Linked DNA regions of Homo sapiens: all the other regions are reported to be linked to region 3. The links are microRNA targets in miRTarBase. Many come from high-throughput screens and were not tested one by one. Region 3 holds a microRNA gene; each other region holds the end of a gene's coding sequence. Distances are between the middles of the regions.

What was found. Region 3 holds the annotated microRNA hsa-miR-3183 (GCCUCUCUCGGAGUCGCUCGGA, at 2,283-2,304, shown strand). A microRNA usually pairs through its seed, bases 2 to 8, with sites in the 3' UTR of a target mRNA and lowers its output. Matches are read on the target gene's strand: a 7mer-m8 pairs with bases 2 to 8, a 7mer-A1 pairs with bases 2 to 7 and ends in A, and an 8mer does both.
Region 1: miRTarBase lists CMKLR1 as a target of hsa-miR-3183. Seed matches in the 3' UTR shown: 7mer-A1 at 1,549-1,555, 7mer-m8 at 2,525-2,531, 7mer-A1 at 4,103-4,109 and 8mer at 4,723-4,730.
Region 2: the mRNA of ASIC4 is a reported target of hsa-miR-3183. Seed matches in the 3' UTR shown: 7mer-A1 at 4,556-4,562 and 7mer-A1 at 4,279-4,285.
Region 4: the mRNA of ZNF286A is a reported target of hsa-miR-3183. Seed matches in the 3' UTR shown: 7mer-m8 at 2,762-2,768.

What each region holds. Positions count from the first base shown.
Region 1 is chr12:108,287,678-108,292,870 of GRCh38, reverse strand. It overlaps CMKLR1 (chemerin chemokine-like receptor 1), which reads left to right. Exons shown (of 4, transcript NM_001142343.2): 4 at 1-4,825. The coding sequence ends at 1,030. Among named protein-coding and RNA genes, the nearest start is that of CMKLR1, 49 kb to the left of the region's middle.
Region 2 is chr2:219,537,658-219,542,850 of GRCh38, reverse strand. It overlaps ASIC4 (acid sensing ion channel subunit family member 4), which reads right to left. Exons shown (of 10, transcript NM_018674.6): 9 at 5,115-5,193; 10 at 4,079-4,918. The coding sequence ends at 4,805. CHPF (chondroitin polymerizing factor) reads left to right here. Exons shown (of 4, transcript NM_024536.6): 2 at 662-1,235; 3 at 1,726-1,905; 4 at 2,209-3,897. The coding sequence ends at 3,468. Among named protein-coding and RNA genes, the nearest start is that of CHPF, 3.6 kb to the left of the region's middle. RefSeq lists enhancers at 4,077-4,632, 4,633-5,187.
Region 3 is chr17:1,019,833-1,024,832 of GRCh38, reverse strand. MIR3183 (microRNA 3183) reads left to right here and starts at 2,274; the gene lies at 2,274-2,357. The region is part of intron 16 of ABR (ABR activator of RhoGEF and GTPase); the gene reads left to right.
Region 4 is chr17:15,716,505-15,721,697 of GRCh38, reverse strand. ZNF286A (zinc finger protein 286A) reads right to left here. Exons shown (of 6, transcript NM_001130842.2): 6 at 911-5,193. The coding sequence ends at 4,408. It overlaps ZNF286A-TBC1D26 (ZNF286A-TBC1D26 readthrough (NMD candidate)), which reads right to left. Exons shown (of 23, transcript NR_171000.1): 6 at 4,385-5,193. Among named protein-coding and RNA genes, the nearest start is that of TBC1D26, 13 kb to the left of the region's middle.

The sequences.
Region 1 (5,193 bases), not on the chromosome of region 3:
ATCCCCCTTGGAAGCCAGGGTGACCAGGATCTTCCTGGTGGTGGTCTACAGCATCGTCTGCTTCCTCGGGATTCTGGGCAATGGTCTGGTGATCATCATTGCCACCTTCAAGATGAAGAAGACAGTGAACATGGTCTGGTTCCTCAACCTGGCAGTGGCAGATTTCCTGTTCAACGTCTTCCTCCCAATCCATATCACCTATGCCGCCATGGACTACCACTGGGTTTTCGGGACAGCCATGTGCAAGATCAGCAACTTCCTTCTCATCCACAACATGTTCACCAGCGTCTTCCTGCTGACCATCATCAGCTCTGACCGCTGCATCTCTGTGCTCCTCCCTGTCTGGTCCCAGAACCACCGCAGCGTTCGCCTGGCTTACATGGCCTGCATGGTCATCTGGGTCCTGGCTTTCTTCTTGAGTTCCCCATCTCTCGTCTTCCGGGACACAGCCAACCTGCATGGGAAAATATCCTGCTTCAACAACTTCAGCCTGTCCACACCTGGGTCTTCCTCGTGGCCCACTCACTCCCAAATGGACCCTGTGGGGTATAGCCGGCACATGGTGGTGACTGTCACCCGCTTCCTCTGTGGCTTCCTGGTCCCAGTCCTCATCATCACAGCTTGCTACCTCACCATCGTGTGCAAACTGCAGCGCAACCGCCTGGCCAAGACCAAGAAGCCCTTCAAGATTATTGTGACCATCATCATTACCTTCTTCCTCTGCTGGTGCCCCTACCACACACTCAACCTCCTAGAGCTCCACCACACTGCCATGCCTGGCTCTGTCTTCAGCCTGGGTTTGCCCCTGGCCACTGCCCTTGCCATTGCCAACAGCTGCATGAACCCCATTCTGTATGTTTTCATGGGTCAGGACTTCAAGAAGTTCAAGGTGGCCCTCTTCTCTCGCCTGGTCAATGCTCTAAGTGAAGATACAGGCCACTCTTCCTACCCCAGCCATAGAAGCTTTACCAAGATGTCATCAATGAATGAGAGGACTTCTATGAATGAGAGGGAGACCGGCATGCTTTGATCCTCACTGTGGAACCCCTCAATGGACTCTCTCAACCCAGGGACACCCAAGGATATGTCTTCTGAAGATCAAGGCAAGAACCTCTTTAGCATCCACCAATTTTCACTGCATTTTGCATGGGATGAACAGTGTTTTATGCTGGGAATCTAGGGCCTGGAACCCCTTTCTTCTAGTGGACAGAACATGCTGTGTTCCATACAGCCTTGGACTAGCAATTTATGCTTCTTGGGAGGCCAGCCTTGACTGACTCAAAGCAAAAAAGGAAGAATTCTCAAAAGCATTGCCATGAACTGGGATTGGCATAGGGCGGTGGGATTAAGCTGCCTATTGTGTGTGCCCCAGAAATGACACTCTCCAAGGTCCATTCCTGGTGTGAGCAGTGAGGGGGTCAGAGCAAACCCAGTGTGATGCAGATCACACTTGGCCCTTGTATATATATTATCAGTAGCTGGCCAGAAAACCCTACCTTCAAGTCACTGCTCTGTGTTAAAGTATGTGGAAATGCATAGGTGATCTGGGAGAGGAAGGTGACATATCAGCCCATGAACTCCATAGGCCATGAATTTGGCTTTCGGATCAGCTAGGAAGACAGAGAACTGGTCCTGAGAGGTCCTGTGGGCTCTTTGCAAGGGCAAGACAAGTGAGGGATGCAACGAGGACTTGAGATTTGGCAAAGAAATGAGAAAGGAGAAAAGAACCTTTAAAGGATGCAGGCATGGAGCAGCTCACCCTAGAACATCGCAGGCTGATGGTGCTTTAGGCTGGAGCTATTTGGGGCGTCAGGGTGGTGCCAGCCCCTGATCTCACCTTGCCCCTCTTACCTGGGGGTGGGGTTGTGGCAGGCATCTTCACCAGCAGCCCTCACCCCATCACAGGGATTTTTTTCTGCCTTTCCTAATCCACTCAGCTCTGGCTGGAGGTGCTTAGAATAAAACACTGGTGGTGGGGCTTCTCATTCTGGTTAATTTCCTCAACGCCTTTGGAGACAGGTCCAAAATGCAGCTTTGGGAAGCAACTCCGGAGAGTCCCCTGGGAAGAAGAGTATGTCCGAGGACTCAGTCACTTGAGACAGAGTCTGGAGCTGGACTCCTTGAACTGTGTTTCTGAGCTGCAGACACCAAATACCTCCTGGATACAGGTGCCTGGCATGGCTTTTCTCATCTAATACTGACACGTCCCTGTGGCCACAGAGTGTCATAGCCCCATTTACAAATGACATAGCTGAGGCCCAGATGGGGAAAGTAACTTGCCCAGCATCACACAGCTAATCAGTGGCAGAGTTAAGATCTGAACCTGGCTCCGTCTGGCTCCAGAAACTCTGTTCTTCTATTTGGAATTTATCTGTGGAGATTATTCTAGTATATTGATAGCCTACATTTATTTAGCACTTTTTATATTATGCACTTTACATATGTTTTCTCATTTAATCATTACAGCAACCCTGAGTTAGGTATGGTTATAACTTCCCTTTTACATAGGAGGAATCTGAGGCTTAGAGAGGTTAAGTAACTTGCCCAAAGGTACCCAGCTAGTCTCTGCCGGAGCTTGGATTTGAACTTCAGTTTGCCTGGCTCAAATGAGGCTGCAGAGTTGGGAAGGACTTAAAAAGTTTGGAGATTTTTGCCATAAATATTGATTTTTCTGCAAATGAGGATGAACATCTTAATGGCCTTTAAGAAACTTTGCAAATAGTTTTCAAAAATGATGCAACATGGCAGAGAAAATGCACTTGGCTTCCAGCTCCCTCAACAGCCATTAACAGCCTCCTACCGTGGCTCCCACCTCCTATGTCTCCAGAGATCAAGGCAATGGGGAGGGAAAGCTGGCAGGAGGCAGTCCCTTGTGGGCCTGAGGCCCTTTGGCTCCTAAGTGTCCACATTCTGTTCTCTTCCAAGTCCCTTCATTGTTAAGCTGATTCTCCAACAAGATGCAATGAACAGATGCAATGTCTACCCCGCGCTGGGCGAGTTCCCGAGGCCATGGGCTGTTTGGAATCACACTTCATTAAGAGACAAACTGTTCCTTCCCTTATTGTGCCTTAATGCTTATGACAAGGCAGCTCTGAATTGATCCCAAGCTGGAGCCTCTGAATGCTTTAAAGAGTTTGAATATAGACGGTTTGAGAGCAAAAAGGGAGCTTTAAATATTGCTCAGTGGCCCCCATCTCCCCTCTTCCCACATTTACTGAGGCACGAGATGGGATGGGACCTGTCCCGGGTCACAGCAGCAGTCGTCAGCGCCTTGGCCCTCCTGGCTTGTAGGATGCTGCTTTTCCTGGGCTTCTGGCAGTCCAGGCCAGGATGGGGGAGCCAGGAATTCATGTTGTCATTGGAAAAGCTGATAAACAGGAGCACAATTCAAACCGGCTGTTTTCCTCCTTAGAGTCTGGCCTCCCTCTTTCTGGCTGCTCTGTGGGTCTTCCTGTTCTGACTTAGGTTCCTGTCAAGTACTTAAATGCAGCCTTAACATCCCATACAGTCTTGTCCCCACAGCTTCATGTGAACATCTCCATGGGTCATGCATATATCGTCCCTGCAGTGTGCAAAGTGTGCTCACCTGCACTGCTGCACAGGCAACCAACATACTTAGTGCCCAGAGCCTTCTCTCTGGGCCCAGGACTCAGTGATGGGGCCTTACTTAGCCCTGCCTCCTGGGTGGGGTGGGGGAGCTGAGGGATCGTGAGGACAAGAGGTAGAGGGAAAAGAAAAGAAGATGGTGTTTGAGGATAGGGGAGGGACAGGAGAGGGGACAGAAAGGTCCCAGAGCATGATGATGAAGGAAAGGGATCTGGCATTCATGAAGCACCTACGATGGTTCAGGCACAAACACTGAAACCTCAAATTGGCCCTGGCAGAAGGGGACCATCATAGCAAGGTGGGGGGGGGGTGCAGAAAGTGAGTTTCTGTTTCAAGAACAGACTTCACTAGTTCAGAGTTGCACAGCTAGTGAGGTATGGAGCTGGGCTTTGAATCAGGTCAGCTGCCTGAATGCCCAACTTCTTCAGCCCTTGGAAGGAGAGGGTGGGGAGAAGAAGAAGGAAAAGACAAGGAAGAAAGAAAGAAGAGAGAAGGGGAGAGGAATGGAAGTCCAAAGAGTGGGAGGAATTTGATTTCAGAACCATCTCCAGCTGACCCTTGAGCCAGCAAGGACAGGGAGAAGGGAAGAGCAAGAACACGAAGGGCCTCAAGCACCGGGATGCCTTTGCCAGCCTTAGATAATTCCCAGAGCGCACAGAGCCCTGCAGGTTCCTGGGTCCTTCTCCAGAGAAGAGGCACAGAGATTCTGGCAGCAAGGTTCAGAAGGGGTGAGGAAACTGGGCACTGACAAAGGGAGGGGATTGGCTCAAATTCGACCCCAGAGTCAGCTCTGGTGGGGTTGGGAGCCTGGATGGGTGGGAGAAGATAGAATCCAATCGTGAAAACCATAAGGGACCTTCAAACTCATCTTGCCCAGATGTCTCCCATTTCACAGATGAGGGAACTGAGGTTTTGAGAGCTTCCCCTGAGGACTCTGCAAAACGAGGTGGTGTCTGGTTTGGATGAAAGTGGTCGGTGATTCCTCAACTCCTGCCCTGCCTCCCTCTCTCGTTCCTCCCTAACATGTTATGCTCTTGTTGGGGCTGGGATGCCCTAGGCCCAAGGTTACCAAATCCTGGGTTTGGAAAATTGCTGCTGGGGGTGGTATCTAGGACCAGAGAGGAATCTACTATTTCTACTGTGAAATAATTCAGCAGGGGGTCTTCTTACTTCTTCCCTTTGAGGACAAAGTTTCTCTCGAATAAAGAGACTGAAGCAAGAGTGTGTGGCTCAGTTCTGGGGGTTCCTGCCATCACCTCCCTTTTGCCTTCCTCACTTACTTCACAGAACAGCAGCTGAGGCTCAGAGAGGTGAGGCGGCCAGTGCAAAGTCACAGAGCTATGTTGTGGGCAGCAGGAGAAGCCCTGAAGTCCCCAACCTGCCATTCTCAAACCTTCGAGCTCCAAGAAATTTGCATTTTGAAAAAAATTCTTTTCACTTATTTTGCTTTTCTAGCAACTGAGGATGTGAAAGAGGTAGTTACTCACCCAAGATAATATAGTAAACCCTAGCAGATAAGGGACATAAAGCCAGGCCTCCTCATGGTCAGGTCTATACTCTTTGGCACTGCATCAGGTGGCCCAAGGA
Region 2 (5,193 bases), not on the chromosome of region 3:
CCTGAGTGGGTTACAAGGGCCACCTCAGGGTGAGATGGGGGAGGGAGGAATGTACCTATCTCATTAATGTCTCTGCTGATGAGTTGAAATAACTTCTAAGTAACATTGGGTTCAAATGCTGGTTCTGCAATTTACCTTCTGCCTTACCAAAAGGTAAGTTCCTAGAGCCCCTGAGTGCAGTTTGCCCCTCCCCGCAAAAACACTCAGTACACCCCTATGCCAAACGTTCCTTTATGTCATTTATGTGAGGCATTTGTGGCATAATGGCATATTTATATAGAAATGAGTAGATACATGGTGTGTCCAGCGTTTGGCTGGGTGCTTTAAACAGATATAATCAGTCCCATTTTACAGATGGCTCAGGTTAAATAACATGCTCAAGGACATAACTACTAAGTAGCGAACCCCGGAGTCAGACCCACAATATCTCTCTCCTATCTGGGTGGGTATTGCCATCTCCCAAATGCAAAGCACTACCTGTTTAAGACCATTTCGTTTAAATCCTCATGACCCCTGGGAGAGAGGGTTTATTTTTAACCTATTCATAGGTGAGAGAACAGATACAGAGAAGACGTGACCTGCCAGGGTCTGTGCTGACCACCTCCCCCCCACCCCCCGCCCCGTTGTCCTTTTGATAAGCTTGTGCCATCTCCTCCCCTAGGACCCGCTACATCAGCACGGAGCTGGGCATCAGGCAGAGGCTGCTGGTGGCGGTGCTGACCTCTCAGACCACGCTGCCCACGCTGGGCGTGGCCGTGAACCGCACGCTGGGGCACCGGCTGGAGCGTGTGGTGTTCCTGACGGGCGCACGGGGCCGCCGGGCCCCACCTGGCATGGCAGTGGTGACGCTAGGCGAGGAGCGACCCATTGGACACCTGCACCTGGCGCTGCGCCACCTGCTGGAGCAGCACGGCGACGACTTTGACTGGTTCTTCCTGGTGCCTGACACCACCTACACCGAGGCGCACGGCCTGGCACGCCTAACTGGCCACCTCAGCCTGGCCTCCGCCGCCCACCTGTACCTGGGCCGGCCCCAGGACTTCATCGGCGGAGAGCCCACCCCCGGCCGCTACTGCCACGGAGGCTTTGGGGTGCTGCTGTCGCGCATGCTGCTGCAACAACTGCGCCCCCACCTGGAAGGCTGCCGCAACGACATCGTCAGTGCGCGCCCTGACGAGTGGCTGGGTCGCTGCATTCTCGATGCCACCGGGGTGGGCTGCACTGGTGACCACGAGGTGGGATGATAAGCTATCCCACTGATACCTCCTTGTCATGTTCAAATCCCTCTGAGAGGCAAAGGGATGTTGGAGATACAGGTCTGCTTTTCCATGCCAATTCGGACATTTATTTTCTATCTCTGTGACCCCCAGTAAATTACTAAATATCCTGGGCTTCAGTATCTTCCTTTGTGCCAATGGAAATAATTATTGCTCGGGGTTGTTACAAGGATTAGAAAAAATCAGGGAGCCTTGTACATAATAGGCATTTGATGTTAGTTATTATTTTAGCCCTTGGACAGCTCTGAGACAGGACGCATGCCCATTTCGCAGATGAGCTAGCGGAGGCATGCTGAAGGTCACACAGACTCACAACTGGTCAAGGTAGACTTAAACCCTCAGACTGCAAGTCCACAACAGGTCATAGGCTGAGGAGATGAGACACTTACTATGAGACAACGGAAGACAATGCCAGCTCATCACAGATCCCTTCCCTTCCTCTCCCCAGGGGGTGCACTATAGCCATCTGGAGCTGAGCCCTGGGGAGCCAGTGCAGGAGGGGGACCCTCATTTCCGAAGTGCCCTGACAGCCCACCCTGTGCGTGACCCTGTGCACATGTACCAGCTGCACAAAGCTTTCGCCCGAGCTGAACTGGAACGCACGTACCAGGAGATCCAGGAGTTACAGGTATGGTCTAGGTCTGGGGGTGGCAGAGTGACGGGGACAGGATCTGAGAAGTCACAGAGAGCCCAGAGAAATGACAAGTTAGCACTAGAATCACAGAACAAAACTACTTCCCAGCCCCTGCCTGTTTCTACATTCTCTGATGAGCCTCTTGGCTGTCTATGCTGGGGAAATGATAGGTATGGGCAGAGGTTGGCAGGGGATGAGGGGCCCATCCTGAGTGGCACCTACTGCCTACCCAGTCCCCCAGCTGTGTGCTGCTCCCTGTAATCTGTCCCTTGCTGATGGCCTGTTTCTCTGATCCAGTGGGAGATCCAGAATACCAGCCATCTGGCCGTTGATGGGGACCAGGCAGCTGCTTGGCCCGTGGGTATTCCAGCACCATCCCGCCCGGCCTCCCGCTTTGAGGTGCTGCGCTGGGACTACTTCACGGAGCAGCACGCTTTCTCCTGCGCCGATGGCTCACCCCGCTGCCCACTGCGTGGGGCTGACCGGGCTGATGTGGCCGATGTTCTGGGGACAGCTCTAGAGGAGCTGAACCGCCGCTACCACCCGGCCTTGCGGCTCCAGAAGCAGCAGCTGGTGAATGGCTACCGACGCTTTGATCCGGCCCGGGGTATGGAATACACGCTGGACTTGCAGCTGGAGGCACTGACCCCCCAGGGAGGCCGCCGGCCCCTCACTCGCCGAGTGCAGCTGCTCCGGCCGCTGAGCCGCGTGGAGATCTTGCCTGTGCCCTATGTCACTGAGGCCTCACGTCTCACTGTGCTGCTGCCTCTAGCTGCGGCTGAGCGTGACCTGGCCCCTGGCTTCTTGGAGGCCTTTGCCACTGCAGCACTGGAGCCTGGTGATGCTGCGGCAGCCCTGACCCTGCTGCTACTGTATGAGCCGCGCCAGGCCCAGCGCGTGGCCCATGCAGATGTCTTCGCACCTGTCAAGGCCCACGTGGCAGAGCTGGAGCGGCGTTTCCCCGGTGCCCGGGTGCCATGGCTCAGTGTGCAGACAGCCGCACCCTCACCACTGCGCCTCATGGATCTACTCTCCAAGAAGCACCCGCTGGACACACTGTTCCTGCTGGCCGGGCCAGACACGGTGCTCACGCCTGACTTCCTGAACCGCTGCCGCATGCATGCCATCTCCGGCTGGCAGGCCTTCTTTCCCATGCATTTCCAAGCCTTCCACCCAGCTGTGGCCCCACCACAAGGGCCTGGGCCCCCAGAGCTGGGCCGTGACACTGGCCGCTTTGATCGCCAGGCAGCCAGCGAGGCCTGCTTCTACAACTCCGACTATGTGGCAGCCCGTGGGCGCCTGGCGGCAGCCTCAGAACAAGAAGAGGAGCTGCTGGAGAGCCTGGATGTGTACGAGCTGTTCCTCCACTTCTCCAGTCTGCATGTGCTGCGGGCGGTGGAGCCGGCGCTGCTGCAGCGCTACCGGGCCCAGACGTGCAGCGCGAGGCTCAGTGAGGACCTGTACCACCGCTGCCTCCAGAGCGTGCTTGAGGGCCTCGGCTCCCGAACCCAGCTGGCCATGCTACTCTTTGAACAGGAGCAGGGCAACAGCACCTGACCCCACCCTGTCCCCGTGGGCCGTGGCATGGCCACACCCCACCCCACTTCTCCCCCAAAACCAGAGCCACCTGCCAGCCTCGCTGGGCAGGGCTGGCCGTAGCCAGACCCCAAGCTGGCCCACTGGTCCCCTCTCTGGCTCTGTGGGTCCCTGGGCTCTGGACAAGCACTGGGGGACGTGCCCCCAGAGCCACCCACTTCTCATCCCAAACCCAGTTTCCCTGCCCCCTGACGCTGCTGATTCGGGCTGTGGCCTCCACGTATTTATGCAGTACAGTCTGCCTGACGCCAGCCCTGCCTCTGGGCCCTGGGGGCTGGGCTGTAGAAGAGTTGTTGGGGAAGGAGGGAGCTGAGGAGGGGGCATCTCCCAACTTCTCCCTTTTGGACCCTGCCGAAGCTCCCTGCCTTTAATAAACTGGCCAAGTGTGGACTTGTGATTCAGAGGTTTTGAAAAGGTAGGCAGGCGTGGGGGAGGGAGGACTGGCTGAGCACCACAGGCTCCCCTGCCCCTGCTGGGGCCTGCCTTTCCTTTCACCCGGGACCAAGTCATGCATGTGCCCAGCCTCACCCCGGCCCCCAGTGCGTGCTTGGTCACACATACACACAGAGAATTCTTTATGCCTCTTTATTCCCAATCTCGTCAGCACTTTATAAAATCAGACTGGAGGGAGAGAGGACTGAGAAGGCTCCCTTCCCACCCTCCAAGCTCAGCCGAAGTCTGGAAGGTCTCCTGCCCCCTCCCTATAGAAGGGACTCTAGGGGTGGGGCTGGTGCAGGGGGAACTGGGAGCTGGGCCAGGCCTGCTGGGCCATCCTCTCCCCCTGCCAAGAGGGGAGCTGGGCCTGGAGAGGGGCAGGAAGTAGGACCAGCCCAGCACTCCTGAGTCCTGGGGCTCTCCCTATCCTGCTGACATTGGGGCTGGGACCCTGGCTGTCCCTAAATCACCCACCCCTGTAGCCCTACCCACCTTCTACATCTGTATCCCCTCCCCCCACCCGGCTTTCCCTAAATATTTACAAATGTACAGAGGGCTCCCCCTCCCCGGCTGGGATGGGCTCTATCCTCCCCCTCCCTCTCCTTCCTTCCCTTCCTCTCCGTGAGGGCCCATGGCCTGGTCTCCAGCCCTCCCGGGGCACCAGCCTGGGGATAAGGGGTGTGGACAAGAAGGACCTTTGTGCAAAGCAGCTGACATCAGGGCAGGGGAGGATGAGAGCAGGAACTGAGTCCTGGCCCTCCCAGTGAGCACCGCCCCCAGGCCTCTCCCAGGAGCAGGAGAATGTGCTGGGGATCCCAGGAGGGGTCCCAGACTCCTGGGTCCTTTCAGTCACAGCACCGTCCTAGCAAGCAAAATCTTCAAAGAGACCTCCTGGGGGACCGTGGGGGTGGTGGTGATTGGGGAGCAGACTGCTGACCCCCCCACCCTCCACTCGGCCCCGGCTCGGGCAGGGACTCTGCAGGAGAAAGAAAAGAGAGAGTGGGACCGGGAGAGCTCAAGTGGTGCCCCCAGGGCTCACACCGCCAGCCTTTCCTTGTCACCTCGGGCAGAGGCTCCAGGGCCCCCTCCACAGGCTGGTTCAGAAACAATGGATGTATTCAGTCCTGGGGAGGTGTGGCTGCATGCTGCAGGCATTTAGAGCTTGTCCTCACCTGTTCCTTCAGCTCCTGAAGCCCCAAAGTGGAGATGCCCCCAGTGGAGGTCCGCAGGGGGGTCTTGGGACGCCTCCAT
Region 3 (5,000 bases):
GTGTTTTGAATTTTGTTTTACATTTTTAATTTTTTTTTTTTTTTTTTTTGTGGGAGTCTCACTCTCTCGCCCAGGCTGGAGTGCAGTGGCACCATCTCGGCTCACTGCAGCCTCCATCTCCCAGGCTCAAGCAATCCTCCCACCTCAGCCTCCCAAGTAGCTGGGTCTACAGGCATGTACCAACATGCCTGGCTAATTTTTGTATTTTTTGTAAAGACGAGGTTTCGTTATGTTGCGCAGGCTGATGTTGAACTTCTGGCTTCAGTGGATCCACCTGCCTCCGCCTCCCACAGTGCTGGATTACAGGCGGGAGCCCCCGTGCCTGGCCCAGACTGTTTTTATATATGAGGAATGAGGCTCAGAGAGTGACTCAGATGAAGTCACGTGAGTGGCTTAGCCGAGGGGCGACGTTCAGACCCCGGCCACTCAGCCTCAGCGCAGGCTCTCACCCGCGGTGTCCTGCCTTCCGTGGCCGGTTGGGGTTGGGCTGCGTGCCCCAGATGGGAGCGTCTGGAGACGCCGGGCTCCTGCCCGTCAGGCATCAGTGTGGTGCCCGTCCTGGCACGCTGTGCATAGCAACAGGCAAGACGGTTCTTCTCGACGACGCCACTGAACGTGAGACTCGGAGCAAGGCAAGGCCTGGGAGGGGCCGCTCAGAGCTGACCTGGGCCCTGGAATTGCTGGAGCCCCTCACGTCCCCGGCAGCAAGCTCCATGCCCAGAAAGTGTTCTGGGCCCGGGCAGGGAGGGTGAAGCTGGTATCAGAGAAGGCTGTTGATGCTGCTTTTTTTTTTTTTTTTTTTTTTTTTGAGATGGAGTCTCGCTCTGTCGCCCAGGCTGGAGTACAATGGCACAATCTCGGCTCACCGCAACCTCCGCCTCCTGGGTTCAAGCGGTTCTCCTGCCTCAGCCCCCTGAGTAGCTGGGTTTACAGGCATGTGCCACCACGCCGGGGTAATTTTTGTATTTTTAGTAGAGACAGGGTTTCTCCATGTTGGCCAGGCTGGTCTCGAACTCCTGACCTCAGGTGATCCTCCCACCTAGGCCTCCCACAGTGCTGGGATTACAGGTGTGAACCACCGCGCCCAGCCCTGTTAATGTTTCTTAACCACTCCAGGTCCAGCTCGAGGCTTCAGAGCCCATGGAGGTCTGACAGGTCCTTGGCCTTCCCGTGGCCTCCAGCGTGAAGCTTCCTGGTCAGGACCACAGAAGGCCTCTCATCTTGGACTTTGACCTCTGAGGGCGCCCCTTTCCTTTCAGGACAGGGCCTCCGTGTTGCTTTGGCCCTGGCCTGTTCCTTTTCTCAAGAGGGCCCCACTGCCCCTGCCCTTGCCACTCTGGCATCCTCGACCTGCCCTGGGCTGGGGCAGGGCCGGCTTCCTGGCTGGTATTTGTAGCCCAGTTCTGAGCTGAAGCTGAAGCCTCCAGGCTGCCTGCACAGGGAGGCAGTGGTGGGGTGGGCTGGCCCTGAGGAAGACGGAGCCCTAGGCCGCTGGGGGAGATGTGCCTGGCTGTGGGGCCTCCAAGAGCAGCCCAGGTTTGGATTTTGTCTGCTTCTCCTCAAGGTCAGCCATGCCCAGCCCGGGGGCTAAAAGCAAAGTGGGTGCCAGGGCAGGCAGAGGCTCTGGAGTGGACGTGGGGCCGGCAGAGGCGCTGGAGTGGACGTGGGGCCGGCAGAGGCGCTGGAGTGGACGTGGGGCCGGCAGAGGCGCTGTAGTGGACGTGGGGCCGGCAGAGGCTCTGCAGTGGACGTGGGGCCGGCAGAGGCGCTGGAGCGGACGTGGGGCAGGCAGAGGCTCTGCAGTGGACGTGGGGCCGGCAGAGGCTCTGGAGCGGACGTGGGGCAGGCAGAGGTGCTAGAATGGACGCTGGGGAAGGCAGGTTGCTGCGGGTGCTAAGAGGCTAGCCTGCCTTGGACAAAAGCGTCGTTCAGAGCTGCTAATCCCCTTCCTCCCATGAGGCTTGGGGAACTTCGAAGTTCTCTGGTGTTGGAGGGGAAGCCAGCCGAGGCCCTGGGACACGGCATCAGCCCGAGCCTATCTGTGGCTGGCCTGGGTATGGCAGGTGGGCACACCTTGGCTGCAGGACACCTTGGCTACAAGGGAGCCTGGCTGACCCTGCAGGGTGAGGGCTGGAGAGGCGGAGCCTGCCTGGCCTAGCAGTGTGGATGCCAAGCCATGGGAAGATGTGTGGAGAGTTTATGGAGCCTGGCCCGGTGTCCCCAACCCAGCTGCTGAGCTGGAAGCCAGGGGTAGGTCCTGGCAGCCCCTCCCTCTCTGCCCTGCCTCTCTCGGAGTCGCTCGGAGCAGTCACGTTGACGGAATCCTCCGGCGCCTCCTCGAGGGAGGAGAGGCAGGGTCTTGGCAACTCCCGTCTCCCCCGTTGCCAGCTTGCCAGCCCCGCCGTGCCTCTCACGCCTGTGGTCTGCCCCAATGACAGGCCGGCTTCGGTGTCCCAAGGGGACCCAGCCCTGAGCGTGGGGCTGCCCTTGGGGGAGGGCAGGGGAAAGCCAGCCCGGGCTGCCACCGTGGCCGCTGGCCTGGGAGCCCCAGGAAACGTGCCCACCCTCAGACCCGATGCCTGGCTCAGGGCCTGGGCTCCGCGGCCCCTCCAGGGCAGGCGTGAAATGTGCCCACACAGCTCCACCTTCCACGTGGTTCCCTGTCCGGGGGCCACTTGCACTGAGGTCCTTCTGGAGTCATTTTCTGTTTTTTTTTTTTTTTTTTTGAGACAGAGTCTTGCTCTGTTGCCCAGGCTGGAGTGCAGTGGTGCTATCTTGGCTCACTGCAACCCCTGCCTCCCGGGTTCAAGTGATTTCCGGCTAATTTTGTATTTTTAGTAGAGATGGGGTTTCGTCAGGTTGGCCAGGCTGGTCTCGAACTCCTGAGCTCGAGTGATCCGCCCGCCTCTGCCTCCCAGAGTGCTGGGATTACAGGCATGAGCCACCGCGCCCGGCTGGGAGTCATTTTCTAGCGTTCCTGTCCCACCTCTCAGGAACAGATTTACCACCTTTGTTGTGAAGAAGCATTTTTTTTTTTTTTCTGCCGCCAGGCTGGAGTGCAGTGGCACAATCTCAACTCCGGCTCACTGCAACCTCCGCCTCCCGGGTTCAAGCGATTCTCCTGCCTCAGCCTCCCCAGTAGCTGGGATTACAGGCACCCGCCACCACGCCTGGCTAATTTTTGTATTTTTAGTAGAGACGGGGTTTCGCCACGTTGGTCAGGTTGGTCTCGATCTCCTGACCTTGTGATCCGCCCGCCTCGGCCTCCCAAAGTGCTGGGATGACAGGCGTGAGCCACCGCACCTGGCTGAAGAAGCACTTTTTTTTATGAACCTCTGCAACCCCCTCTGAGGGAAACCCTCCCGCATTCTGGGATGCCGGGGCTCAGAGGGTGGAGGGTAGAAGAGCGCCAGCCGTGAGAGGCAGGATGGGGCGGCCCCCGAGGGCAGGGCTGTGCCTGGAGGCAGGGCTCCTCGGGGGGTCAGCTCCTGGGCGGTGGGAGTGACCGAGTGGGCTCCTGAGGGAAGCGGCTTTCAGGAAGGAGGCGGAGGCCTGGGAGCTCTTGGGGCCCTGGCAAATGTGGTCTTCAGATTCCCGTCGTCCAGTGAGCCCCTGGATCACGTCCTGAGTGGCGTCCACTGAAGGCTGCTTGGGACCTCTGCTCCCCCCTCCACTGAGACCCCCAGTGGCCAGTTCTAAGTCCCACCTGCCTTGGGCAGGGCCACCACAGGCCCCTTACTGTGGATTAAAGGGCCCTGGGTGAGGGCTTGTGGGAGGGGAGGTGGTGGAAACCATCTCCGAAGACCTTGGGGCGAGCTGCGTGCTGGAGTGGAGAGTGTGGCCCAGCAGGCAGGAGCACTGGGTTGGAATGGGGGCTCTGCCACCTCCGAGGGAGCAGGAGTGGAGACCGGAGGGAGCGTGCCCCTGAATCCGAGCACGGGGAGCTGGCCGGGAGCAGCCCTCCGGGCAGAGGCAGGAGAAATGGGGTCACCTGCCCCAGGGGGTGAGAGGTGAGCCGAGAGGAAGGGCTGAGACCCTCAGGGGCATCCCCAGGATGTTCCTGAAACTCAGCCCTGGAGGACGCTCAGGTGTGCGTGGAGCACCCTCTGCCCTGGAGCCTCAAATCCTCTCCCCGCTGCGGGGCCACTTTGCTGATTCCTGCCCCAAACATGAGGTCACTTCGGTCCAGAAAGGCGAGGCGACCTCCACCAGCCACCTACGGGATTCTTGGCAGAGAATCCACGCTCACCTTCGGGTCTTCACTCCTGCTCCCTCGGAGGTGACGGAGCCCCATTTCAACCCGGTGCCCCTGCCTGCTGGGTTTTCGCCGCAGGGGACCTGGTCGTCTCCTGGACATGAGCCCCCAGCGCCAGCGTTTCTCTTTGGGAGAGGCCTGAATGCGCAGTCATGATTTGACCAGGCGAAGTGCCCAGACAAAGAGAAAACAGTCGGCCGGATGCAGGGGCTCACGCCTGGAATCCCAGCACTTTGGGAGGCCGAGGCGGGTGGATCACCTGAGGTCAGGAGTTGGAGACCAGCCTGGCCAACACGGTGAAACCCCGTCTCTACTAAAAATACAAAAATTAGCCGGGCGTGGTGGCTCGTGCCTGTAGCCCCAGCTACTCGGGAGGCTGAGGCAGGAGAATCGCTCGAACCCGAAGGTGGAGGTTGCAGTGAGCTGAGATCGCGCCACTGCACTCCAGCCTGGGCGACAGAGTGCGACTCCGTCTCAAAAAAAAAAAAGAAGGAAATAGTTGAGCTGCTCTCAGTGACCATGTACGGCCCAGTCGTCGACCCCTGGCCCAGTCGTTCGTCCGCCTTTTGGCTCCACGATGTTTTGCAGCCTGTTTCTGTCTCCTGCCTGTGGCCCACCTTGGGGAGGCCCCAGTGCTCGTGTGCCCCTGGTGGTCTTCCCAGCCTGACCCTTCACGAGCTCCCTCTGTCTCCCTGCTTCAGGTGATCAGACATCCCCCAAGTACCTGCTCCCCTGGGCCCATGGA
Region 4 (5,193 bases), 15 Mb from region 3:
TCCACCCGCCTCAGCCTCCCAAAGTGCTGGGATTACAGGCGTGAGCCACCGCGCCCAACCGATAAACACATATTTTTAAAAGTGAGAACACATCTAAGAAAATAAAAACTATGACAAATTTTCAATAGATAATTGATCTAGTTAATTGCCAATCAATTTGAATATTTAGTATTCTTACATTATCACTTTTATACTTTTGGGTGATATTACATTGTCTTCCCCCAAACCAGATATAATTGAAAAGTTACACAAAATAAGATTTTTATGACATTTTACCTAATTTTTTTTTTTTTTTTTTTTGAGATGGAGTTTCGCTCTTGTTGTCCAGGCTGGAGTGCAATGGCACTATCTTGGCTCACTGCAACCTCTGCCTCCCGGGTTCAAGTGATTCTCCTGACTCAGCCTCCCGAGTAGCTGGGATTACAGCCATGTGTCACCATGCCTGGCTAATTTTGTATTTTTAGTAGAGATGGGGTTTCTCCATGTTGGTCAGGCTGGTCTCGAGCTCCTGACCTCAGGTGATCTGCCTCCCTCAGCCTCCCAAAGTGCTGGGATTACAGGCTTGAACCACCGCACCTGGCCCATTTTGCCTAATTTTAACTGTGCTTTTTATACGAAGTTATTCCCTCCCTTTCACCCCAATTAGCCCTACTGAGTAGTGCCTATACCTGGCCTGGGGACTCAGTACTACTTGTTAGAAACTATCTTCCTCTACTCCTTAACCTTCTTGCAGATACTTGGGTTGCTGACGGTATCTCCCATCCCATCTCTCCAGAAGTTGTGAAGCCAGATGACCAGCTAGAAATGGGATTGGTATCCTGAATGATATGGAGATATTTTTTGGTTGGTCCTTCATTACATCTTAAAATATGCTTTAAAAAAGGAAGAATTTAAAAGCAATTTACAAAAGTTTCTGACAATACATATACAAACATCTTTATTGACAAGTGAGCCAATAAGGGCACATTTAGTTTACAGATAACCAAAAACATTTGAAATGCATAACATTAAAATTTCCAAGATTCATGTTGCAGTACAAACATGTGGCAGGTTAAACATCAGGCATAAAAAGGACAAATACTGAAACGCAAAGGGCCAGAGATCCCAAGTCGCTTAACACTATTTAAAATGTTATTCAACTGCAAACTTCAGCCTCTGGAACCATCCCAGATAGCTACTGGTTAAGTGATATGAAGTAGGAAAAAAGAAGGTTCTGGAAGGTCTCAAGGAGGCTGTGCAGAAAACAGCACCAGATGGAAGCAAGAGCAGAAAGAAGTCACGTCCCATCTTTATGACAAGACACAGAACAAGATGGTCACAGTTCTTCATGGGTAAACAAAAGATGTGGAAGACACAGCCAACCTTAAGTAACTTCTACTGACGGATGCTCTGGCACTTCTCTATGTAGAGAAGGAGAGAGAAAGAGAGCACCAAGCAGGAGTGGGGGACTCTATATTTATTGTCTGCCAGTTCTTTTATATGCATTGTCTTATTTAATCCTTATGACAACCTCATGAGAAGCCAATGATTTATTCCCTTTGTTGAAACCTAATACAGATAAAGAAACTGAGACTCAGAGTAGGGAGTTTTTCCAAGGTCACATGACTGCTTAGTGGGGATGGCAGAATTCAAACTCAACTTTGGAAAGCCCATGTTGGTCTTCTTTCCTTAGTCAAATTTTGGCTCTCAAATGAATTCCTCTTCACTCAAGAATTTGGCAAGTTTCAATAACTTGAATTCTCCTAACAATATATAGTAACATCCTAGAGGTAGGAGTATTTTGATGCAGCATTTCCCATCTCTTTTATTTTTCTGTCCCCAATTATCTCTCAGTACTTTTCCATTCCACCTAGTTTCTCTGACTGGTTTAAACCCTTTATCTGACTTGATGAATGCTCTGGAACAGGGGCCAAGAAAATATTTTCTGTAAAGAGCCAAACAGTAAATATTTTAGGCTTTCAGGGACATACAACCTACTATGGGCTATATCCCCATCAAAGTCATATAATGAAACTTAACTGACGGTATTACGAAATGGGGCCTTTTGGAGGTGATTAGGTCGTGAGGGTGGAGCTCTCATGAATGGGATTAGTGCCCTTATAAGGGGCTGAAGATACCAGAGCTCTCCCCTTCTACCATGTGAAGACACAGTGAAAGGTGCTTTCTATTAACCAAGAAGCAGACCTTCCCTAGACCCTAAATATGTTGACACCTTGATCTTGGACTTCCCAGCCTCCAAAACTGTGAGAAGTAAGTTTCTGTTGCTTATAAGCTGCTCTGTTTGTGATATTAAAGCCCAGAGGCACAACCTCCGCTGCAGCTACTCAGTTCTGACACTGGACACAAAGGCAGTCAAGGACAACATGTAAATGAGTAAGTGTGGCTGAGTTCCAATAAAATTTTCTTCTGAGAAACAGGTGGTGGGCCAGAGTTGGTCCATGAGTCCAGGCCACAGTTTGTCAATTCCTGCTCTAAACCATTAGTACTAAATACTAAGATGATAAAAGAGGTGAGTTCCTTTTCCTGTGTTTTCTTTTCTTTCTTTTTTTTTTTTTTTTTGAGTAATGATACAGTTTAGATCTGTATCCCCACCCAAATCTCATGTTTAATTGTAATCCCCAATGTGGGAGGTGGGGCCTGGTGCAAGGTGACTGGACCACGCAGGTAGTTTCTCATGAATGATTTAGCACTGTCCCCCTACTGCTGTCTCGTGATAGAGTTCTCATGAGATTTGGTTGCATAAAAAGTGTGTAGCACCTCCCCTCTCTCTTTTCCTCTTGCTCTAGCCCTGTGAAGATACCTGCTCTGGCTTTGCCTTTTGCCATGAGTAAAAGCTCCCTGAGACCTCCCCAGTCATACTTCCTGTACAGCCCATGGAACCATGAGCCAATTAAACCTTTTTTCTTTATAAGTTACCCAGTCTCAGGCATTTCTTTATAGCAGTGTGAGATTGAACCGATACAGACAACAATAACAAAAAGTAGATAAATATGAAGGCCAGAGAAATGGCAACTTCTTCACGAAGGGAAGCTGCTTATCCTCAAGCAAGTCAGTTGAGGACTATCCTGTGAGCTATTTTCCGTGCCTTGTTTTCCACTCATACAGGGAAGTATGCCCTGGTGTCTCACAGTTGCTTCAGTTCTTCTTTACTGGGACCCTAAATATAATAACACACTGAACCACTCAACTTCTCAGACCTTCAATATCCCTGGGGCTTTTTCTCAAATGGACACAGCATAGCTTTCAGAAAGCTGAATAATGTAGACAAAAGAAGTCTCCCTCACCCTTTGATTATGGAAAACCAAAGATTTATTCAGTGCCAAGGATAAGAAAGGAAGGACTTGATCAACAACCACTGTTAAGATTTTGACCCATTCACTACTTCACGTGAACTCCCAGGGAAATGGAAAATGAAAGAAGGTCTCCGCGGTAGAGGGATAACAATGACATAAATCAATGATGATGCCAGGCATGGTGGCTCATGCCTGTAATCCCAGCACTTTGGGAGGCCGAGGCAGGCAGATCACGAGGTCAGGAGATCAAGACCATCCTGGCTAACATGGTGAAACCCCATCTCTACTAAAAATACAAAAAAAATTAGCCAGGCGTACTGGCAGGTGCCTGTAGTCCCAGCTACTTGGGAGGCTGAGACAAGAGAATGGCATGAACCTGGGAGGTGGAGGTTGCAGTGAGCCGAGATCGCGCCACTGCACTCCAGCCCGGGCAACAGAGCAAGACTCTGTCTCAAAAAAAAAAAAAAAAAAAAATCAATGATGTACATAATCCATGTGAACGTAACTTAGAGTTGTCTGTAAATATTATACATCCCAGTTATGGTCATCAACATAGACAGCAGCTTGTTGAGGGAGGAAGGGAATTCTAAGGACTTTGAACCCAGCATTTTTGGTTTTTAAGGCTAATATAAAAGAAATTACACTCTAGATGAATTATACCATATGTGTATCTAGATCTCAAGGAGTAATAAATAACAACATTGTGTCTTCCTGATGATAAGGATGTAAGCCCTCAGCCTAACCTACCCAATAAGAATTTCCTTACAAAGTGAGAGGCTTACAACAAAGCTCTGACATAAACAAGAGAGGGGAAAACTGGATTTCACAATGTTCGTACTGCTACCTACTCTCAGGGACTTCTTGAATTTCCACAGATAGCTATTTGGGACGTTGGAGATTAAAATTTTGAAATCGCTGGCTAGATTTCATAATTATCAAATTAACGGACATAAAGAACCTGCTTATGGCTCAAAACTATGTATTACGCAAATGAAATTAGATGCATACAGAATTGGTCCTCACATGCATATTATGGATGCGCCTTCCACCTAAACACTCAAGTATTTAATACAGTGATAAAACCAACTTACATTTCTTCACATTCAGTAATTTTTCAGGGTTGCTCTTCAGTGTGAACTCTTTGATGTCTGATGAGAGATGAACTGCACTTAAAGCTTTTCCCACACTCATTACATCTAAAGGGTTTCTCTCCGGTATGAGTTCTCTGATGTTGAATGAGAGCTGATGAATGAATGAAGGCTTTTCCACACTCGCTACATTTGTACGGTTTCTTTCCAATATGAATTCTTTGATGTTTAGCAAAATTGGAGCTCCGGCTGAAGGTTTTCCCACATTCATTACACTCATAGGGTTTCTCTCCAGTGTGAATTCTCTGATGTTGAACAAGATGTGTGCTCTGACTAAAAGTTTTTCCACATTCACTGCATTCATATGGCTTTTCTCCAGTATGAACTCTCTGATGCTTAGTTAGGGATGAGCAATGGCTAAAGGCTTTCCCACATTCTTGACATTTATAAGGTTTCTCTCCAGTATGAGTTCTTTGATGTTTAATGAGTGCTGATGAATGAATAAAAGCTTTATCACATTCATTACATTCATAAGGCTTCACTCCAGTATGAATCAACTGATGCTGCACAAGATGTGTACTTCGATTAAAACCTTTCCCACATTCATTGCATTCATAAGGTCTCTCTCCAACGTGAATTCTCTGATGTGTTGCAAGGGATGAGCTTTCTGTGAAGGTTTTCTTGCATTCACTGCATTCAAAGAGAATTCTAGTATGAGTTCTCTGGTGTTTAGTTAAATTAGCTCTGTGGCTAAAAGATTTCCCACATTCATTGCAGGTATAGGGTTTCTCTCCAGTATGGACTCTCTGGTG